Linked DNA regions of Homo sapiens. The protein of the gene in region 2 interacts with the protein of the main gene of each other region in a pairwise test. Each region holds a gene or a part of one and is shown on either strand. Other genes may lie near its edges.

Region 1 (6,462 bases), on a different chromosome or scaffold from region 2:
CAGATTAGGAGAATGGCTGGATTTAATCAACTTGTGTCAATTCAGCACAGTAGAGGGAGAATATACAGAGCAGAGGGGAATGATTAGAATGATGGACAATAGAATCTGAGCTAGATGCATATGGAAGTAAATGGAAAGATAAAACAGGTGATAAATAGTGAAGTGATGAGGTTGGTGGATCGGTAGGTTCAGTGAGACTGAGAGTTAGATGTTAGAGTGTAAGCAATAAAATAGGTGAGCTGGAAGATGCTTGGAATCAAGATTTTGAAAGTGGTGCTGTAATTAATCATAATGATATCAAGATATGTATGATTTCAGGAAATATGGTGGAAGAGGCCATCCCTGGAATGGAGAAGGCCAAAGAGGAGAGGCCAGGGAAGATGCTAAATATGTGGTCCATGTAGATATTGAAATTACCAAGATGTCAAGGATAGAGGTACAACAAAAGCCTATGAGCTTTTGCATCAATGATTTGCCCAACTTTGTATAATTTCCTCCTCTTTGAACTTCTTAACTTTGTGCCCCCTTCATAATATATGTCTTATTCTTTGCCTTATTGTGTATTTTTTTCTTCTTCTTCTAGACTAGGCAATGAAAATAAGCTTGTTTGCCATCTTCTGTAAAGATACACAAACTAGACATTTTCCAACACAGTGTCGCAGTGAATAAGGATTATGAGATTTAAATAGTGACTCTAGGAAGCCTCTATATAATTGAGGGCAAAACCATTTCATGAAGGGCCAGTCCTAGTTTTGAATAGGTAGGAGAATGCAAGATAATGGTTTAAGAGTAATGCTTCAGAGAAATCTTATGTCATATGACAAAGATGTATAGAAACAATCAAAGTTTATCTTCAGAAAAGATCTGTCAATTTTTAAATAGTACAAAAATAAACAGACATTTATTTCCAGACTTATCTTTTACATAAGTTAAATACACATTTGTCTGAGGCACTGAAACATTCGCATACACAACCCAAATTCCCAGGTTTTGTCAGCAGATCAATGTTAATAACAAATCAAGTTTTTTTTTTAAAAAAAACAGTGAACAGTGTTTTATACAAGCATATTGACTATTTCTTTCTTAACCTTAAACATTCTAAACGTAAAATTGTAAAGAAGATTCTCCTGAGTTATCTTTAATGATATTTATTTCATTTTCTCCCTCTTCCCAAAAGAAAATTTTTTTCAATTATTTATATAAATACTATTATCTGTAATCAGCGTTTGATTTAAAAATATTAAAACCCACAGTGCTTGACACAGAATATTTTCTCAATAAATTGTGGCTGAACAAATTAACGAAGCATCCACAGATCCCTCAAAACATTTTAAAAGGTCAGTCTTATGGCACATTCAGGCTAATGAGACAATATTCTTTGTGGGCTAGCACATAGGCCTATCCTAAGGACAAACATTCAACCTTAAATATCTCAATATGCCAATCAGATTTCTAAAAATTTATTCACAAATCTTAATACAATCATTTCTTTGGATTGTTTACATAATATTCAGAGAGGTAACCCCAAAGAAAATATACTGATTGTGACATAACAAAAAAAAATCAATGATTGTAGGCTTAAACACAGTTTATAACCATAGTGTCCTAATAAGACATAAATAATAATCTTCAATAAATTAAGTAATATACAGTACCATTAAATGTCAGTGACAATGAGATGTGGAAAAGAAGTATTATCGTCATTATTATTATTGCTGAGAACTACTTAGATATCATTTGGTTTTGTTTTTAAATAAGAAAGGGCATTAATTAGAATGGGAACGTAACTTTTTCCAGTCACAAACCCCGTACAGTTCTCTCTGAGGCACTAGCCTCTTTGCATCCATCTTGGTTACAGATAGCTAAAATTAGCTATAAATAAAATTCTCTGCTTTTCACTTAAAATAAGTGTATACTATTTTTAAAAGGGCCTTTTTTTTTCTCTTTTAATCTTCTTAAGAGGAGCTAAATAGCAGTCCTGAGCTGAGGTTTACCTGAAAACTTGCAAAAGTTCAGGTAAGAAAATATAGGCAGAGTCCAAAGAAAGTGAACTCTGATCTTAAAACTAGTAAAACAAAATAGGAGAAACGAAGTGATGAGAAGACTGTGTCTCTTAGCAAAATGGCTAAAAGAAGAAAAGAAAAGGAACAGCATGCAGGTAGCCAGGCTTGATTCCAATGCACCTACTGAATTGGCTTCAAGACTGAGATAAAATTAATGTGTGAAATGAATTTAAGCATTTTGAAGAGGTATTTTATGAGGTCATTGCTACTTTTGCAATGTGATATGGACTGCTAAATTAAACTGTACAACAGAAAATCTGAGAAAACATATCATTATTCAAGCACAGCTTGGTACTTCATTAACCTCATAGCAAAATCTGAGTACCAGGCCTGCAGTGCACAAGGATAAAAAAAAGTTTGCTTCAAAAGTTTAAACCTAAATTTGAACAATAATTTGGTTTTCTTCTTTGTTATTGCTTATTTTAAAGGTAGACCCTTTTGCTGATATAGATTTTACATGTTACCAGCCATATAAACAAATTCTGGAATATCTCAACAAAATATTCTTATTTTAAGATAACACTGCAGTGGCTCCACCACCTTAATAAATTTGGCATTTTGATTTAAAAGGAAGTTTTAACAGTCACACTAAAAAGGTTTATACTCTTGGTGAAAAAGGAACATCACTTATAAAATATTTTAACAAGCAATTGTAGTAAAATTTCTACTGATTTTACAGATTTAAATCCAAGACAGCTTCTTTTTGGTATATGTACAAGTTTAATAACTTTAAGAAATCAAACAAGCTTTTACAGGTGATTCTACCCTATGAATTTAGAAATTTCAAATTATTGTTTCATTGCTGATTTTAAAAAGTAGACATGAAATTACTGGTAATGTCTAATTTAAATATTCATTTAATAATGCACTGATACCTGTTTTTGTTTGATGACAGAAAAATAACCAAAAGTACTTTAAAATTTCAAACATTAGTTACTTCTAATGCATCATGGAAGATGCATTGGAAACATCGACAGTGTAAAAACTTTCAGCATTTTGCCATCTTGTGACAGTGTTTAAGTATTCAAACATCTTTACTTTCGTTCTTATAATATAAGTTGAAATTCAAGTAAAAAGACGTCAAAACTCATTTCTCTCTGGTTTATAAAACAGAATAAAAACTGTTTTCCAAACTTAACAGCAACAGCAAAATCTTTAGAGTAGTGACATAAAAGTCTTCACAAGTATGACTCCTTTCTCCGCAACAGGAGTACTGACTTCTGTTACAGAAGATGTTAAGTAACATAAGGAGTTTAATATAAATATTATTAAATAATTAAATTAATAGACATGGTTCATATAAATAAATAAATATGATCATTAGACTTCTACAGTTCAGTCGAACGTTCTTTTAGTAGTACTGTGGGATTGATATCATCTAGTCCGGAGCGGGAAGAACTTGCATTGATGGTGACTGTTTTAATGAGCTCTGGATCTGGAACACTGAATGAAGTAAAGGGACAGCCCTTCACGTTATTGCAGATGAGAGACTGAATTGAGGCAGTGTTGATGATTTGAAAACCCACTTCTCCACCAAAAGTGCTTGGCTTCCAGTAGGCAGGAGAACATATAACATTACCCATAAGTCCTTTCAAGGAGAATGGTGCTCCAACTTCTACCATGGTTTCACCAAAGATGGCATCTGGCCGAGGCTTTTCTACCAGAAGGGCAGGATACAGCTCCACAGCATCGATGTCACCATAGAGTGCTTCCAACTCTGCAGACATTTCCTTTTCTCCTGTGAAGGCGATGAAGACAGAGATACAACCAATGTCAAACTTCACAAAATAAAAAACAGTTTGATTCTTTTGCTCAATTTGCTGCCAACTTCTCTGTTTCCATTTGACCCCTGATTCTTTTAAGAAGTTTAGGGGCCAGGCGCGGTGGCTCACGCCTGTAATCCCAGCACTTCGGGAGGCCGAAGCCGGCGGATCACTAGGTCAGGAGTTTGAGACCAGCCTGGCTAACACGGTGAAACCCCGTCTATACTGAAAATACAAAAAATTATCCATGCGTGCGACGTGAGCCTGTAGTCCCAGCTACTCAGGAAGTTGAGGCAGGAGAATTGCTTGAACCCAGGAGGCGGAGGTTGCAGTGAGCCGAGATGGCGCCACTGCACTCCAGCCTGGGTGACAGAGGGCGGCTCCATCTCGAAAAGAAAACCAAAAACAACAAAAACAAACAAACAAACAAAAAACGAAGAAGTTTAGAAACTGTTTCTTACCTGTAAGTTCTTCAAATGATTCATAGGGCTTCAGCATAAAGCGTTTGCGGTACTCATTAAAAGACTGGTATTTCATCTGCCTGCTCTGGTCAATGGAAGCCTGTGATACTTTCTGTACTGCGGGTGGAACATTCCTACCACCAGCAACCTGTGGAAAGTAAAATTAGTTGTAAAACAAGAATTTTAGGCATATTTACTGTTTGTATTCAGCTTGCCTTAGGTACAAATCAGGTAAAACTGAAACTCCCAGCGGAGACAATTTTTATTTGCTGGAAAGATGCTTACCTACATTTCAACAGGAGCTCTGCTTAAAATTCAATGGGACACCAGCCTAGAACTAATTTGCCTTTTTACATTTCAAAAATAACACTAGTATTCAAGCCTAAAATATTTATTCCTATAAGATTATAGATACTTTTTGAAAATATTTTTAAGGTAGGGGTACAATTTGCTATTTGTCTGACAACTGTAGACTAGACTAAAAGTTTAGACTTTTCAAACAAAGTTAGGCTTCTTATATCAATAAAATAATTTTACTAGCAATATAACTAACTACTCTTTTAGTAAGTTTAAGAAAAATAATTTCCGTGGCAGAAATTCTAAAGTTACTGACTAGTCTTTTGTTTTGGTTTTCAATAATAATGCTTACCCTGCCAGCAATTTGCCTGGTGAATGATTCAACAAACTGGGTAATTCCATGTTCCAGCAATATAGAGTTGTTGTAGATAAACTGTTGATAGTTGTATTTCTGGTCATGAATTTGAAAGGTGTCAGGCAGAAGGGGATGCCAGTGATAGAGGGTGTTAAATTCAGCAGCAATACGATTTTGGTACTGGAATTGTTTGTTGAAAAGTAGTTCTGGGTCAAATTTCAGTTTGAAGTGATAGCCACTCAAGTGTTGCACATAATCTTCAATCACAATCTTAATAGTCTCTCCTATTTGCACAAAATAAATAATAAAAACATTTATTGCATCTGATCACAAGCTTTCAAGCAACTGGAATGCAATTTTTAAAATTTGCTATTCCTTCATTTCTGTTTTCTTCCTTGTCAGTATCAAAAGATAGCTATTTTATCAGTCATGCTTACATATTTAATGTATATAGAATGTGTGAGTTTTCATTTACCACATCTTGTCATTTACTCAAAACATAACAAAGATAGCACACTAATTTTCCCTGGGGAAGAGGGTTTTATATAAATCATTTTCTTGTTTACCTATCAGTATTAGCCTGCTTGTCTGGAACAACTGCTCATCACCCCATTCAGGATGCTCCTGTTTAAGCACATCGCATACTCTGTTGTGTTCCCGCAGCCAGATTGTGGCATACATCATCAGACCAGGCACCAGACCAAAGACCTCCTGCCCCACAGCAAACCGTAGATGCTCAGGGACTTGAGGAGGGTAGATCATCTCTGCCTGAGTATCTTTGACTGTGGGAGGATACATCTCTCCATCAATTATCTAAAAAAATAAATAAATAAATAAACATCAGTTAAAAAGTTAAGGAACACATTTTTAGGGATTTTAAAATATGGGTATAAGCGGTAATAACTAAGTCTTAATAGTCAAAGGAAGCATACCTGATATTTCATTTTTCCATCCTTGAAAAGGCGCAGTTTACGCTGTCTAGCCAGAGTTTCACCGTAAATATGATTTAAGTCCACCTAGAAAATGATGAAAAAATTTTAATTTGTTGCTGTTGAAGTTTTTCTTATATAAAGTGTCTATCATATAATTCATCATTAAATAATTTGATCATTTAGCTTTCTTTAAAATTTTTAAATAAAATATACATTTTTCATAGCCATGAATTGCTAAATTAATTTGTTTATCCACCAAAGCTACAAACTGATATGTCTTTGTGTTTAACGGAATTAATATACTATATTGAGCTTATATCATATATATTATATACTTCACTATGATGATATGGTAATTATAAAAAAGTATAAAAATGTATTATTTATAAAAAATTCTTACGAATAACTTGAAGCTATGCTATTGAAATCCAAAAAATAATAATGCGGCAAAAACCTCACTTTACAATATTGAAAGCGGCATAATCATGGTACAATGTGTTTTTGAGGACATAACATTTTGCAGTACTAACATTTTAAACTAAAAAATACAAGGGTCAAATTACAAATAACAATACCTGTACATATGTATGT
Region 2 (8,054 bases):
AGATTTATTCTGAGCCAAATATGAGTGACCATGGCCTACAACACAGCCTCAGGAGATCCTGATGACATGTGCCCAACGTGGTCAAGGCACAGCTCGGTTTGTACATTTTAGGGAGACAGGAGATATCAATCAAATACATTGACAATATACATTTGTCCAGTCCAGAAAGACAGGACAACTTGATGTGGGGGGTGCTTCCAGGTTATAGGTGGATTTTAAAACTTTCTGATTGGCAATTGGTTGCAAGAGTTATTGTCAATAGAAATAAATGTCTGGGTTATAATAAGAGGTTGTGAAGACCAAAGTTTTCTCATGCAGATGAAGCCTCCAGGTAGCAGGCTTCAGAGCGAATAGATGTAAAGGTTTCTTATCAGACTTAAGGTCTGTGTTGATATGAATGCTGGAGGGTATAATGAGTCATGTCTGACCCCCACTTCCCACCACGGCCTGAACCAGTCTTTCAGGTTAAATTTTATTTTATTTTTTTTGAGACGGAGTCTTGCTTTGTCGCCCTGGCTGGAGTGCAATGGAGCAATCTCAGCTCACTGCAACCTCCTCCTCCTGGGTTCAAGCGATTCTCCTGCCTCAGCCTCCCGAGTAACTGGGACTACAGGCATGCACCACGACCATGCCTGGCTAATTTTTGTATTTTCAGTAGAGATGACGTTTCATCATGATGGCCGGGCCGGTCTTCAACTCCTGGCCTCAAGTGATCCACCTGCCTTGGCCTCCCAAAGTGCTGGGATTACAGGCATCAGCCACTGTGCCTGGCCTGCACTTTACCATCTACAAAGCAGGAAAAAAAACTTCAAACTTGCCTTCCTTGTTGGAAGTGAGTTGAAACTCCAGAAGGGAGTTACGTGCTCTCCATCGTCATGGAAGCAGGAAAACTTGCCTTCCTTGTTGGAAGCAAGTAATACTCCAGAAAAGGAGTTGTACAACAAAATAAAACTTAGCTCTCAAATTGTAGCTCTCTTAGATCTCAAATTTTCAGAGATTCGGGATTCTCTGCAGCAGGGAGCTCCCAGCCCTACTGGTTTGACCAATGAAGACAGATACCAAGCTGTTACCAAACACCAACAGGAGATTTGTCAAAGGCCAGGGCCACCTACATGGAGTCCCTTCATGGTCGCCAATTTGTAAACTAAAAAGTATCTAAGCTAGGTCTCAATCAATTTAGATGTTTATTTTACCAAGGTTAAGGACAATGCCAGGGAGAAGAAAAACCACAGAATCACAGAAACAGTCTGTGGTCTGTGCCTTTCTTCAAAGATGACTCTGAGGGTTTCAGTATTTAAAGGGGGAAAAGTGGGCTGGAGGGGAAAGAGGGAGGGTGTGGTCATCCACATGTTACAAGAGAAAAGGAGCAGGTGAGGCAATAGTCCCCGAGTGCTCCATTCAGATTACCTCCCCGACTGCTCCATTCAAAATCACACTCTGCAACCTACACTCTTTATGCCCTTCCTTGCCTTATCAAATGGTGACAAGTGCCATGGCTTCTGTAGGCGACCTGGTGAGCCTCCCCTGGACCTGGGCAGCATCCCCTGGTTGGGGTATGCCTTGGACTTTGGAAAAGATGCTGCCAGCTTCCTCACGAGGATGAAGGAGAAGCACGGTGACATCTTTACTGTAAGTGCCTCTTGTGCCTCGGGAGGGATGGGGATGAGCAGCTGGGCCTCATATCTGGTTTCTGTTGATTCCTTCAACATATGTCCCTATGCCAACCCCCCCACCCCACCATCCAACATCCATCTGAGTGGTCGAGCCAACTTTCTATCCAGCTGCCTGTCCAGCTGCACTCTCAATGCTGACCTAACATCATCCCTTCAGTCTCCCTCTTGCTCTTCCCAGCGTGGAGTTATGCAGTCACTCAATATCTATCCAATACTTGTATATCCATGCAGCTGACCTCCATCTATCCATTCCATTTCCATCCGTTCAACATCCATCTTCCCATCCCATTCTTCTGCCTGTCCACCTGGTGTCTACTAAGCGTCCTTCCATCCTTATATCTACTCAGCATTCATTCGTCAACCTCCGTCTATCCACTCACCCATCAGTTTTTCCATAGATTCACCCGACATCTGTCAATTCATTTATCCATCTTCTATCCCTTCATGTGTCTGCCCAGATCTACCCAGAGTTCTTCCACTCATGGATCCAATGTTCATCCAACTTTCATCTGTATACAGTTGGCCCCCTGTATCCATGGGTGGGTTCCATATCTCTGGATTCAACCGGCCACGAATTGAAAATATTTGGGGGAAAATGTGTTGGTACTAAACTTTTTTAGACTTTTTTGTTGTAATTCTTCCCTAAAAATATAGTTTAACAACTATTTATTTAGCATTTACATTGTGTTAGGTATTATAAGTAATCTAGAGATGACTTAAAGTATATGGGAGGATGCATGTAGGTTATTTGCAAATATTATGCCATTTTAAATCAAGGACTTGAGCATCCATAGATTTTGGTATCTGCAGGAGGTCCTGGAACCAATCCTCCATGGATACTGAGGGATAACTGGTCAGTTTCCACCAACTTTCATTTTTCTGTTTATCTACGCATCTTTCTGTTCATCTGCCACTATCCACCCAACACTCAGCTATATTCAGTATTCGATGTCTCCCCACTGGATATACATCTATTTATATCTCATCCATCCATCCTTACAACATCTATTCAAACGACCACCACCCACCCACCTTCCATGTATCCTTCCAACTTCCATCCAATCAACATTCATCCTTCACTTTACCCAGTATCTACCTAGCATTCTCTCATCCATGTACCCAACATTTATTGGTACATTTGGTTTCCAACCAACCTCTAGCTGCCCTTCCATCCATCTTTCCATCCAACATAGATTCATTGATCTATCCTTCCATTTATCCATCTATCTAACATTGTATCCACAAGTATTTACCCAGCAATTTCCTTCCTTCCTTCCTTCCTTCCTCCCTCCCTTCCTTCCTTCCTTCCATTCATTTACCCATTCACCAATCCATCCATCTGCCCATTTACTCTTCTACAATCCACCCACTGGAATTTACCCAACAGCATCCATCCATCCATCCATCTATTCATCCATGTATCCATTCATTCTTCCTTCCATCCATCCATCCATTCTTTCATCCATCCATCCATCCACCCATCCATTCATCCATCTACTTATCCATCCATCCTTCCTTCCATCCATCCATCCATCCATTCTTCCATCCAACCATCCATCCATCTATCCATTCATCCATCCATTCATCCATCCATCCATGATGTGCACAGGATCCATCTGCCGCCTTCTCTCCTGGCTACTGGAGATATGGCAATAACCAAGATAATCATGGCAGGTGCTTAAGAGTGAGGTGGTAGAGAACACAGTCTTTGATTTTAAAAAGCCTCAATATTCCCAAATTCCAGTCCTAGTCCTGCCACTTCTCAGCTATGAGATCTTGGGCACATTTCTTCTCCTTTCTAAGCCTCACTTTTTCAGCTATAAATGGGTGAGTGATGGTCCCTACCTCACAGGGTGGTAGGTGGTAGTGAGGCATAGATAAGAGAACATAGTGTGTTACTGTCCAGTGGGGCAGTGCCTGGCACACAGTAAGGCCCTGACCACTGAGAGCGGCTGCTGTTCACAGTGACACTCCTCACTCTATCCCTGGCAACTTCCCACAGATACTGGTTGGGGGCAGGTATGTCACCGTTCTCCTGGACCCACACTCCTACGACGCGGTGGTGTGGGAGCCTCGCACCAGGCTCGACTTCCATGCCTATGCCATCTTCCTCATGGAGAGGATTTTTGATGTGCAGCTTCCACATTACAGCCCCAGTGATGAAAAGGCCAGGATGAAACTGTGAGTGGCTGGAGATGGCACCTGTGGGAGGGCCAGGGTGGGCGACTCATTTCTACTCATGTGGCCCAAGTTATTCTTGGTTCCAAAGCAAATGTTCGGTAAAGACATTTTGTCTTGAGAACACAAACAGAAACAAAACAAAAAACAACCCAAAAGAATTGGGTGGAAGAAGAACTCTTTGTCTCTCATCTCTGGCGGGTTTTTTTGTTTGTTTGTTTGTTTGTTTGTTTGTTTGGAGGCAGCCCTGATTTTAGTAGGAGGAGACCAGGGTTTGGGTCAGCCACACCTAAATTCAAATCCCAGCCCCATCACTCCCTAGCTTTGTGACTTTGGACAAACCTCTTTCCCTCTCTGAGCCTCTGTTTCCTCCTCTGTAAAATGAAGGAGAGAGGTGGAATGATGAATATTTCTGAGTCCATACTCTGCCAGGCAGCATGCATTATCTCATTAGTCTTCACAACAATGCTGGAGGCTAAGTAACTTACAGCCCCATTTCATAGATGCAGCCACTGGATCTCAGAGAAGTGACTTGTCTCAGGCCACATAGCCAGAAGTGGTACAGCTCCTGAAACATATGGAGGAATCATTTTATTTTATTTATTTATTTTTGAGACAGAGTCTCTCTCTGTTGCCCAGGCCAGAGTGCAGTGGCATAATCTTGGCTCACTGTAACCTCCGCCTCCCGGGTTCAGGCGATTCTCCTGCCTCAGCCTCCCAGGTAGCTGGGATTACAGGCACGTGCCACCACACCTGGCTAATTTTTGTATTTTTAGTAGAGACAGGATTTCATCATGTTGTCCAGGCAGGTCTCGAACTCCTGACCTCAGGTGGTCTGCCCGCCTCAGCTTCCCAAAGTGCTGGGATTACAGGCATGAGCCACCATGCCCAGCCACATATGGAGTCATCATATCAATAAGAGAACAGATGAACATGTTTGCTCTGCATTCATTCAGCAGACATCTGAGGACCCATTGTACCCTGGTCATTGCCCTGGATGTAGGGTGTGCAGAACGGTGCCAACCACCATTTGAAGGCAGCTATTATAGGCCAGGTGTCTGATAGGCTCACTTTCATATCTGTGCATTAGCCTAAAGAGGTGGGCATTTTTATCCTTATTTTACAGATGAGGACACTGAGGCTCAGAGAGGTGAAGTGACTTGCTCAAAGTCTACTGCTAGTAAGTGGCAGGACTGGGATTTGAACCCAGGTCCACTGACTTCACAGCGCATTCTCCTTCATCTAAGATACCAAGGCTGATAAGACCCTGTGTCCGCCCCTGCAGAGTTCACACAGTCCAATGGCGATCTTCAGTGATCTGTCTCCAGGAGGAATACCCTCTGGAGGTTAGGAAGAGCATCTAGGAAACTGTTTTGCAAGATAGTTAAGGCTGAAGCAAGGCCAGCATGATGAAGTGGATGTTGATGAGACATGATGCCTCCTCTGAACCTTGGCCTGGGGGCAGCTGCTTGGAGCCTGAGTGTCCTGGGTCCTGACATTCCAGGGGGACCCTGGGGGTCCCATTAGCAATAGGAATCCACAGCTCACTGAATCTGCCCCTGCTACCCAGGGAGGATCCCAGTTTCCTTCAGTGTTTGCCTCAGGAATTTTCTGGAATTTCTTACAAGCTGGCGTGATGTCTTCTGGGCACAGCAGCCACATCTGTTGAGGGCTTGTCTCTGCTGAGGACCAGCGCTTGGAGTGGGGTGGGGAGAAGAGCTGGGTCAGGGTCCATTGAAGGCCAGATCCCATGTATTGAGCACTTACAATGTGCCAGGCACCGTGCGGAACCCTTCACATGCATTGTCATACATGAGTCATGAGCCATGTCTGTCGTTTTTCCCACTATGTTCCAACTTGAACATCCCAAACCTTTTCATACCCAGGAGTTCATGGACGCCCTGTGCAAACCCTGCCCTGGTGGATTACCCAGGCACTTCTGGCTTACTCAGTCTAAAGGTGTCCATCCTACTTCCCAAACAGCAGTCCATCCTACTTCCCAAACAGCAGGCATGACAGATCAGGGCCCTGATTGGCACTCTCCCACTGTTCTTGTTGCTGCCACTAGGTGTTGCTGTTGACCATGGGCTGTGCACCGCCCATGGACACCCCACTTCACTTGCTGTAGGGATATCCTTTTTGGTCCAGATCCTACACAAGGAGCAGAGAGGCCTTAGACTTAGATGCAAGATACCCCTTTCTTGGCTTCTAATCATATCCTCAGTCATGGCTCAGTGTAGACTCCATATCATGGAGGCTCAGTATAGGGGAGCTTCCAGCTTCTGCCACACTCTTCCAGACGGGGCCTCTCCTCACTCTGTGCAGGTCCACACGATGGGACCAGATCTCCAGCCCACATCCCTTTTTCCTTGTGTCACTCTCATGTGAGGTCATGTCTTTTTTTTTTTTCTTTTCTTTTTTTAAGACACAGAGTCTCACTCTGTTGCCTAGGCTGGAGTGCAGTGGTGTGATCATAGCTCACTGCAGCTTCAAACTCCTGGACTCAAGCAATCCTCCCCACCTCAGCCTCCTGAGTAGCTGGGACTACAGGCACCTACTACACATCTGGCTAGTGATTCTTTGTGTATTTATTCTATTTTTGTAAAGGCAGAATCTCACTATGTTGCCCAGGCTGGTCTTGAACTCTTAGACTCAGGCGATCCTCCCACCTCAGCTTCTCGAGTAGCTGAGACTACAGGTGTGAGCCACCACCCCTGGCTAATATTTTATTTTTTGTTGAGATGGAGTCTCACTATGTTGCCCAGGCTGGTCTTGAACTCATGGACTTAAGTGATTCTCCCACCTTGGCCTCCCAGAGTGCTGGGATTACAGGTGGGAGCCACCATGCCTGGCCAGGGTCACATCTTATTGGCAGTCCTGAGTCAGGGAACACCACAGCTATTCCAACAGATCTTCCTATCTTTAGATTTCAGGGAGAGATGAGTTGCTTTTCAGTTCCTTCTCTTCCAGAACGCTATGGGTCCCTTATCCAAGCTGTGTGCCTTAGGGAGGGAAAGACTCTCCTGGTTAAGAATTCAGATGCTGGAGTTGGGCAGACCAGGATTTCAGTCCCGCTTTGGCTGTGTGACCTTGGGCAAGTCACTTTCCTCTCTGTTTCTGAGTTTCTCCATCTGTAAAATGGGTGTCATAATAGTAACTCTTATTCCCAGGTTTGTCTGAAGACGAAATGAGATTAGGCTCAGTATAACAGATGGGAACTATTGTTGACGATGACAGTCATAATAATATCCTCTTATTTAAGCTACTCTTCCGCAGGACCTCTTTGCCAATGGGGAGCTTGAGCTCTGGGACCCTTAGGTTTGGGGAGGGAGGTGCCTGTAGGTGTGTATTTCCCTTTGGAAGCCAAATTTTCATGCTTTTGTTTCCTGCCTCAGGACTCTTCTCCACAGAGAGCTCCAGGCACTCACAGAAGCCATGTATACCAACCTCCATGCAGTGCTGTTGGGCGATGCTACAGAAGCAGGCAGTGGCTGGCACGAGATGGGTCTCCTCGACTTCTCCTACAGCTTCCTGCTCAGGTGAGGCTGTGCAGCCCCCACCCTCCTGCTGGGGCCCGGCACTTTGACCTGTGTCAGCCATGAGCAGTGGCCAAGGGAACCGTGAGGACTCTGTGGGTGGGGGAAGCAATTTGAGACACCCAAAGCAAAGACTGTAGGAAAGACGCCATGCACCAGGGCCCCGGCTGTTCATCTGACCTAGCTCATGAACTGTAAAAGGAGACACTGGCTGGAAATGGGACCTTACAGGTCATTCAGAGAGGAAGTCACAGAGCAAGACTTCAGAGGTCATCTTGTCCTGTGGCTTCCAGACTTTGGGATTTCACAGAACAGAAAACAAAATGTTTGGGAGATCAACTTGGGACCTTAACCTTTTATCTGGTCTTGTAAATGTATGTTAAAAACTGCACAACCGAACGTTCCTTCCTTCAGCAGTGCCGGGCACTAATCCAGGCTCTGGGGATACAGCAGGGAACAGGACAGATGAAGTCCCCAAATTCACACAGCTGACACTCCAGTGGGGGAGGCCGAATTGAGTTATGTCAGAGAGTGATAAACACGATGACAGAGATCCACGGGTGGGGTGACAGCATCTGGGGGGCTTTCTTAGGCCGACTGACGAGGCAGGGTCATGCTCTGGGGGTCTGGCTTCTGAGCCAAGACCTAACTGCAAAGTGCCCACCAC

Evidence for each region. Proteins that work in one complex are often made in the same cells at the same time.
Region 1: the proteins of PTGIS (region 2) and PTGS2 come close enough for resonance energy transfer, tested with the Homo sapiens proteins (one study listed by BioGRID).

Annotation. Positions count from the first base shown.
Region 1 is NC_000001.11:186,670,962-186,677,423, forward strand, and holds the end of PTGS2 (prostaglandin G/H synthase 2 precursor), read right to left. Parts: intron 5,956-6,462; coding exon 5,872-5,955; intron 5,753-5,871; coding exon 5,506-5,752; intron 5,224-5,505; coding exon 4,937-5,223; intron 4,436-4,936; coding exon 4,288-4,435; intron 3,802-4,287; coding exon 3,392-3,801; 3' UTR 830-3,391; downstream 1-829. UniProt on the Homo sapiens protein: Dual cyclooxygenase and peroxidase in the biosynthesis pathway of prostanoids, a class of C20 oxylipins mainly derived from arachidonate ((5Z,8Z,11Z,14Z)-eicosatetraenoate, AA, C20:4(n-6)), with a particular role in the inflammatory response.
Region 2 is NC_000020.11:49,543,641-49,551,694, reverse strand, and holds part of PTGIS (prostacyclin synthase), read left to right. Parts: intron 1-1,505; coding exon 1,506-1,629; intron 1,630-3,675; coding exon 3,676-3,854; intron 3,855-7,246; coding exon 7,247-7,390; intron 7,391-8,054. UniProt on the Homo sapiens protein: Catalyzes the biosynthesis and metabolism of eicosanoids. Catalyzes the isomerization of prostaglandin H2 to prostacyclin (= prostaglandin I2), a potent mediator of vasodilation and inhibitor of platelet aggregation.